2 linked regions of the Homo sapiens genome follow. The protein of the gene in region 1 purifies or fractionates together with the protein of each later gene. This does not show direct contact. Each region holds a gene or a part of one and is shown in the gene's direction. Other genes may lie near its edges.

Region 1 (3,808 bases):
TACTAAAAATACGAAAATTAGCGGAGCATGGTGGCGCACGCCTGTAGTCCCAGCTTCTTGGGAGGCTGAGGCAGGAGAATCGCTGGAACCCGGGAGGTGGAGGTTGCAGTGAGCCGAGATCACACCACTGCACTCCAGCCTGGCAACAGAGTGAGATTCCATCTCAAAACAAAAACAAAAACGAAAAAACCTTAAAATTTTTTTTCTTTAAAGGTATACACACAAATATAGTTCTTTCATATTCTCATGTGATGTTTGCAAATTGCTTGTTAGAACGAACAGCAGTAGTATGGAACATAAATCCCACACCTCAGTGGTGTTTTTTTTTTTTTTTTTTTTTGAGACAGAGTCTTACTCTGTTGCCCACGCAGGAGTGCAGTGGCACAATCTCTGCTCACTGCAACCTCCGCCTCCCAGGTCCAAGCCATTATCCTGCCTCAGCCTCCCAACTAGCTGGGATTACTGGTGTGCACCACTGTGCCTGGCTAATGTTTGTATTTTTAGTAGAGACGGGGTTTCACCATGTTGCCCAGGCTGGTTACAAACTCCTGAGTTCAAGTGATCCACTCACCTCAGCTTCTCAAAGTGCTGGGATTATAGACGTGAGCCACTGCGCCTGGCCTCAATGGTTTCTTTACATACCAATACTCTAGATATTAAACTACTTTTGTATTGGCCAGAGATAAAATAGATTAAATTATGTGTTGTATTGAATAACACCTGAATCAACAGTTAATACTGGCAAGTTGGAGGAGCCGTGATTTTTTTTTTAAAGTCATACTTCTTCTCTAAGCAACTTTAAATTGCTAGGGTTTTTAAAGAATATTGGGCCAAGCAAGGTGGCTCATGCCTGTAATCCCAGCACTTTGGGAGGCCAAGTTTTCTTTTTTTAATATATATTTTTTCTTTTTTTTTTTTTTTTTTTTTTTTGCTACCTTTGGATTCTTGATAGTGAGCTTCCAATAATTATTTCTTAACAGCATTTAAGTCTGATTTACACATCATACTTTATACCAGCAGCAGGGCTGGTTATGCCTGTACTAATATTCAGACATATATTGAAAAACTAGCCTTGTCTTTTTCTACTGTGTAAAAACCTTTATTGTCAATACATTTTACTTGTACTTAAGCTAAATTTTTTTTCTTTTTTTTTTTGAGATGGAGTCTCACTCTGTCACCCAGGCTGGAGCGCAGTGGTGCAGTCTCAGCTCACTGCAACTTCCGCCTTCTGGGTTCAAGTGATTCTCCTGCCTCAGCCTCCTGAGTAGCTGGGACTACAGGCATGAACCACCATGCCCAAGAAAGGAGGATCATTTGGAAAAAATATATATATATTATCTGATGGCCCACATCTGTGGTCCCAGCTACTTGGGAGGCTGACATGGGACGACTGCTTGAGCCCTGGAGGTTGTGGCTGCAGTGAGCTGTTATCAACTGCTGCACTCCAGCCTGGGCAAGAGAGTGAGAGGCCATCTGAAAGAAAAAAAAAAAAAAGGCAAGAATATACATCTATCTGTTTTCAGTTTAAAATAAAACATTTAAGTCTATATATGTTTTTTTCTTTTTTTTTGAGACAGAGTTTCACTCTGTTGCCCAGGCTAGAGTGCAATGGCATGATCTCTGCTCACTGCATCCTCTACCTCCCAGGTTCAAGTGATTCTCCTGCCTCAGCCTCCCAAGTGTCTGGTATTACAGGCACCCACCATCATGCCTGGCTAATTTTTGTATTTTGGTAGAGATGGAGGTTTCACCGTGTTGGCCAGGTTGGTCTTAAAGTCCTGACCTCAGGTGATCCACCCGCCTTGGCCTCCCAAAGTGCTGGGATTACAGGCATGAGCCATCTCGCCCGGCCTATATATATGTTTTTCTGATTCCTTCTTTAAGTTTTAGTTAATTGACTAATTACCAGCCTTGATCACGTTGGATTCCTCTGTATCTCTGCCATTTATCTTTTGAAAATTAAAAACACAAAACGAGTAAAAATTCCAAGAGGATGGAAATCATTTTTAACCCAGCTTTGTTTCCTGTCCCTCAACATTTGCCAAATTGTATTATGCAAAGTAGGTAGTTAGATTTCTGCTCAAATAATTTTCACTTTGGTTCTTAATATAACACCAAATACTGGCTGGGTGCGGTGGCTCATGCCTGTAATCCCAGCACTTTGGGAGGCTGAGGCCAGCGGATCACCTGAGGTCAGGAGTTTGAGACCAGCCTGTCCAACGTGGTGAAACCCCATCTCTACTGAAAATACAAAACTAGCCAGGCATGGTGGTGCATGCCTGTAGTCCCAGCTACCCAGGAGGCTGAGGCAGGAGAATAGCTGGAACCCAGGAGGCAGAGGTTGCAGTGAGCCAAGATTGCGCCACTGCACTCCAGCCTGAGCAACAGACTGAGGCTCCGTCTCAAAAAAAAAAAATAAAATAAATAAATAAATAAATAGACCAAATACTATATTTTTACTTTTTCCTCCGCAAGCATGTAAATCGTAATTTTACTTACAAGTGACTAAATGTCAAGAAATAAAGAAGCACACAGTTGCACAATTTGTGAGAAATAAGAATTTGGTGTTTCAGTGAGATTATCATAGAACTAGAATTTGACACGATATTTTCTTTTTTTCTTTTTTTTTTTTTTTGAGACAGAGTCTCTCTCTGTCGCCCAGGCTGGAGTGCCATGGCACGATCTTGGCTCACTGCAAGCTCTGCCTCACAGGTTCATGACATTTTCCTGCCTCAGCCTCCCAAGTAGCTGGGACTACAGGTACCCGCCACCGCGCCCAGCTAATTTTTTGTATTTTTATTAGAGACAGGGTTTCACCGTGATAGCCAGGATGGTCTGGATCTCCTGACCTCTGATCTGCCTGCCTCGGCCTCCCAAAGTGCTGGGATTACAGGTGTGAGCCACCACACCTGACCAACACGATGATATTTTCAGTTTTATTTCTAGTTATGTAATTTTCTCTATATGGGAAACTACAACTTATACATTACTGATATTCATAATATAGTGTAGCTGATCGCTCTAATTGTAACTGTATTCCCAAGATAGTGTTTATTCTAGAATTATGCTCTGTACATTTGTTCTGGAAATGACAACCATCATGAGTTTTTTAATGCCCAAAGGAGAGTACAGTAAACCCTCTGTATCCCTGAGTTCCACATTGAGCATTTAAGCACCTGTGGATTGAGACTATTCAGAAAGGGCTGGGTGTGGTGGCTCACACCTACAATCCCAGGACCTTGGGAGGCCGAGGCGAGCAGATTGCCCGTGTTCAGGAGCTCAAGACCAGCCTGGACAACATGGCGAGACCCCATCTCTACAAAAAATACAGAAATTAGCCGGGTGTGGTGGTACGTGCCTGTAGTCCCAGCTACTTGGGGGCACTAAGGCAGGAGGCCCTCCTTGAGCCCCAGGAGGTTGAGGCTGCAGTGAGCCGTGGTCTCACCATTGCACTCCAGCAGCCTGGGTGGCAGAGCAAGACCAAGAAGAGCAACACCCTGTCGGCCGGGCACGGTGGCTCACGCTTGTAATCCCAGAACTTTGGCAGGCTGAGGCGGGCGGATCATGAGGTCAGGAGATCGGGACCATCCTGGCTAACATGGTGAAACCCCGTCTCTACTAAAAAATACAAAAAATTAGCCAGGCGTGGTGGCAGGCACCTGTAGTCCCAGCTACTCGGGAGGCTGAAGCAGGAGAATGGCATGAACCTGGGAGGCAGAGCTTGCAGTGAGCCGAGATCATGCCACTGCACTCCAGCCTGGGCAACAGAGCGAGACTCTGTCTCAAAAAAAAAAAAGAAGAGCAACAC
Region 2 (4,594 bases), on another chromosome or scaffold:
GATGACCTATAGAATATTGCTATGTTGTGTGTACTCTTCTCCCCTTTTTCACAAATTTAGAAAACAGGATTAGGACAAAAGTAAAGCAGATGAGGGAAGCAGTAAGTGTCAGAGGAAGAAATTGAATGCAGGTCTGTCTGAGCTAGGCTGCCCATGTGTTTGCCCTTTTGGTTTGCTCTGAACTTTCTGTTTTTCAGTATTTCTCAAGAGCATGCCTTCTAAATAGGATTCTCAGGAAGCCACTGTTGAACTAATAAAGGCCATTTACTGCCATTCGAAGGGAATAAGAAGTTTAGTCCGTGATGAGTTTCAAATTTGGTTATCATCTTGCTTTTCCAGTGGTGATGAAAAAGCAAAATTCACCCAAATACAATGACTACTGTCTACTTGAAACGCTCCAGGTAGTTAATTTTTGAATTATGATTCACCTTCCCTTTCCTGTTTTGATGAACCATGAACAGGAGACTGAACCTTCCCTATCAATAAAAAGCTCGCGTTTCCACCCTGCAAATTCGCGCTATGACAGTCTAATTGGCTGAGGCGCAGGTGGGATTTCCTGTCGCCATTTTAAGACACAACTCCTCTGCAAGCAAGTGCCCAGCCAGTGAAAGGGGGCTGTGTCTGAAACAAAGAGTAAGCGGGAAAAAAGGGAACCAGGCCCAGTTGCCCCTGCTCCCCTCCATGCCGCTCCCTCGTCCCCCGGACTTGGAGCGCCCCAGCTCCGTTAACCTGGACGCACCAGGTCCTTCGGTCGGGACCACGTGGGGTCTCCAGGCCCTCCAAGAGCTGGCCCCCGGCTCTTTGCGCCTAGGCCGGTGCTTTCTCGGTGCTCAGCAAATCCTTCTGGTTCACCTCACACCCAGTCCCCAAAGCAGAGCTCCACAGGGCAGATCTCAGGAAGGGCTGACCAGGTCTGCGGGTGCTGGATCCGGAAGAGGGGAGGTGCCTCCCGCTTCAGGTTAGGGACAAAGGGTTTTTAAAGGTGCCCGAGCTCCCCGCCGCCCCTGCCACTTCGGTCCCCTTCCCGCCAACCCGGGCCATCTGCAGGCTGTGCCCAGGGCCAGCCCTCCGCTCCAACGCTGCCCGTAGTCCCAGGCGCTGCCCGCGGCTCTCCGGGCTGCGCTCGGACCTGCCACTCCCGCGGCCATCCTCATGCTGCGCCCTTCCCACAATGCAACTCCCTCGCTCCTTCGGCCCCGGCGGGGCTCTGGCGTACCCAAAATGCAGGCCCCAGCGGAACGCACAGCCCTCCTGTCCTCCGCCGGTGCCCCTTTAGCCGCCCCACCCCCATCCCTAAGGGCTCTCATTCTCCAGCTGCAGCCGCAGCTGGGTTCCGAACACGCCGCCGGGCCCCGGGAGGGAGAGGGGCAGGTGCCAGGGCGGCGCGCAGCCTCTGCTCCCGGTGCCAGCTTCAGTGCGCCGGGCACACGCGCGCCCCGCAACCCCTCCCTCACCCTTTCCCCGTTGCTCAATCTCCGCCAGCCGCGGTCGCTGCATCGTCAGAGAGCTGCAAGAGGGAGGCAGCAAGGTGCGGCCGCCAGCAGTGACACCATGTGACCGGCACGGCTCACTGACACGCAGCTTTGGTTAAAGAGCGGGCGCACAGGAGGGGAGGAGACCGCGCGCGGGACGGGGAGGAATGGCCTGTCCGCGTTAAACCATCACAAGCCATGGTTGCGGAAGGGCCACGCGTCCCCCAGTAGGAGAATGACTCCGATTCGTGACCCTCAGCGCCGGTGCATGTCGATGTAAGTGCGAGGCCGGCGAGCAGAGTGTGAGTGGGGGTTGGTGGTGAGGGGAGATTCTGATGCAATCGGCCCGGAAAGGAGGAGAGCCAGGCGAGCGCGGACTGGGGCGGCCACGCCACTCCGCCAGAAGGTCGCCAGGAGCCTCCGCCCTTCACCTTCCTCCGAAATCCGCCAGGCCACGCCAAGCTCCCTGCCCAACCCTTACTGACGGGGGCCACATTTTCCCGGCCTCCGCAGCCAGACCTTGACACAAAGGACATCAAACTGCCGAGGGTAAAAACCCCGGAAGGGCGGACACCTCCACATCGCCTTTTGCCACCTTTCCCTTTATTTCCGGAGGTAAGGTGATTATCCGTTCCCGGGGAGGGCTGGGCGAGCGGCAAGGGGAGATTTAGATGTCGGAGGAGGAGGTAACGTAGAAATCATCTCTGCGGGCGTGAAAGCAGAGAGAGCTCGGCTGTGCCCGATGCTTTCGGATGTTGCTTTTAGGAGAGGAAAAGTCCAGGTCTCCTGTGCTTCCCGAACGCACGCGGCAGCGGGAGGAAGCGCCAGGGCCCCCGAGTTCACCTTTGCGTGGGCTGTGGCTTACTTTTTGGTTTGTTTTCCTGTGACTTTGGTGTGTTTTCCTGTGGCTGTGGCAGAGTGTGGTACCAGATCTGGTTCCATTTTTACGAGAGCCAGGAACCACGCACGTCTGGAGGGAGAGCGCAGCTGACCCGAGGGCGCGACCGTGTTCTGGGAGTGTTTGAATCCCCGGCCTTTGGTGAAAATTTCCTGTGTCCGCAAGGCCCAGAGGAGATCGTGTGATGTCCGGGGGGTGCTGCGTGCGGCCGGCTGGGTAGCGGCCGCGGACCACCACTAAACCGGGGCATGTTTGCCGTCCTTCCTGGTGCTCTGCCCCTCTGTAACGCGGGGAAGTAGGAGGGCGCGGGGAGAAATTACTAAAGGATGCTTGCAGTGACTCACTGTCCTTTCCTGCCCTGAAGAGGATTTTCTAAAATGCAGAGGGTGGCAGGGGACAGAGGTAGTGTTTTTTCGAGAGCCGGGATGTGCTGGAGCCAGCGAACAAAAGGCCACCTCTTGCGCGGTCTTGGGCGCAGACTGCTCTCGCTTCCAGTCCCACCTCCTCCCCAACCCCCGGCACCTAGTTCGCGTCCCTAAACGTTGCCGCAGAGGCCTTTAAACGCGTGGGTCGGTGCCGGGAGGAGAGCGCATCTTCGCCCTTGTGCGAGCCCCTTGCCCCCTAAATTATCCACCTCCTGGCGCATGGGGCTCCCCAGCACCCACTGGGACCCAGTAGGTTACCCGGCTGCCTGGGCACCGTTTGCCTGCCAAATCGCCCGCCTGAGGTTTGTGCTGAACTGTAGTTAGAGAAGGCACAAGTGCATATGGCAGCAAAAGGAATTTCGCGGTACCCGCGTCACGCCGCTCCCAGTGCCTTTCACAGGCTGCCTTGGGCTGGGGAAGGTGGTGCTACAATTCAGAGTCCTTTGTCTTGCTCTGCGGCGCGGACCCGGGGTTTGTACAAACCCTCGTTCTCTGTTAGAAACCTAACTGCCGCCAGGATCACGTACTTTCTCGGACGAATCCGCGGTGATGTGTGTAGCAAAAGTGAAAAAAGACGCCTCTGCTAGAAAACGGTATTTATTTGCGTTTGGAAGGGGTTTTGACCTCTCTGCAGTGGGTTTTTACATTTTTCAATATAAGGGGGAGGAGGAAAATAAATTTATGGTTTGCAGAATGCAGGGCCCAGCGAGGGTGTAATTTGTCACCTTGATAAAAGAAACTGTGCAGCAACTCGTGCTTTTTCTGACGTCAGAAGGACAACGGAAATAAAACCTGAGCTCGGTGCATGGCTGGCCTCGTTGTCAAATGTCTCATGCCAATTTGGTACTCCCGAAATCTTGCAAAACAGCCAATTCCGGGGTACTGACCTGGTGTGGACCCCCTGGATTTTGGTTCGACCCCAGCCTCAAAATGGCCTTTCTCTTGAGAGTCACTCGATTTCTCAGTATGTCGCTGTAAGCAATTGGAAACTGGAATAGTTTGGTTTGAGGTCTTAATCTTGAGGTTTATTCGCTTTTTAAAAAAATGTGGCCAATAAACATTTTCTACAGAGGGCTTACTGTGCGACTGGCAGCAACTAACAAGATTTGTTTCACCTTCTATGAAGCTTCCGTTCTCAGGGGGAAATAGACTATATAAATGTAGGCATATACATTTCAGGTATTCTTAGTGCAATGAAGAAATAAAACAGGATCATGTGATGGGGGAGGATGCTTGAAATAGAGTGACTCACCGGGAGGGGCGGTGTGAGGGTATAACATTTGTCCTCAGACCCGAATGATGAAAAGGGATCAGCTATTTCCATAATTGAGGGAAGAAGGCCAGCGGAAGGAACAGGAAGAAGGAACAGCAAGTACTTATTGCACTCTTCTTTGACTGTAATATAATTGAACAGATAGATGAATAGATTTTAAAGGTGTTTTGGAGCTTTAAACCTATATGTATGTTGTTTATGTATATTTTTTATGATGCTTCATGAATTAAGGCCATTTAATGAAAGGAGCACCATGTTTCTGATATCTGACTATTGCTACTCTTTTCTTTACTCTGGGTGATGCTTGTGGACAAAAACCGATTTTACTCATTGTTCCTCTAATGTCCAGCACATAGTACCTGCTTAATAAATACTTGTTGGATCGAGACCTTGAGACCTTGATCAGGCCATCTTGTTCATCTCTTTGTGATATTATTGGCCATCCCTTCCGTTCTATATCTCATCTGTTCCCCTTCTCCTAAGTTTGAAAATGAGAGTCTTTTTCTTCTCTGCTTCTCCTTCTCGT

The links.
Region 2: the proteins of UBXN8 (region 1) and SLC38A1 purify together in Homo sapiens (affinity purification with mass spectrometry, with the first as the bait; one large-scale study listed by BioGRID). This does not show direct contact.

What each region holds. Positions count from the first base shown.
Region 1 is NC_000008.11:30,746,989-30,750,796, forward strand, and holds part of UBXN8 (UBX domain-containing protein 8), read left to right. Parts: intron 1-3,808. UniProt on the Homo sapiens protein: Involved in endoplasmic reticulum-associated degradation (ERAD) for misfolded lumenal proteins, possibly by tethering VCP to the endoplasmic reticulum membrane. May play a role in reproduction.
Region 2 is NC_000012.12:46,266,019-46,270,612, reverse strand, and holds the start of SLC38A1 (sodium-coupled neutral amino acid symporter 1), read left to right. Parts: upstream 1-1,569; 5' UTR 1,570-2,087; exon of another isoform or gene 2,088-2,158; intron 2,159-2,625; exon of another isoform or gene 2,626-3,388; intron 3,389-4,096; exon of another isoform or gene 4,097-4,167; intron 4,168-4,594. UniProt on the Homo sapiens protein: Symporter that cotransports short-chain neutral amino acids and sodium ions from the extraccellular to the intracellular side of the cell membrane. The transport is elctrogenic, pH dependent and driven by the Na(+) electrochemical gradient.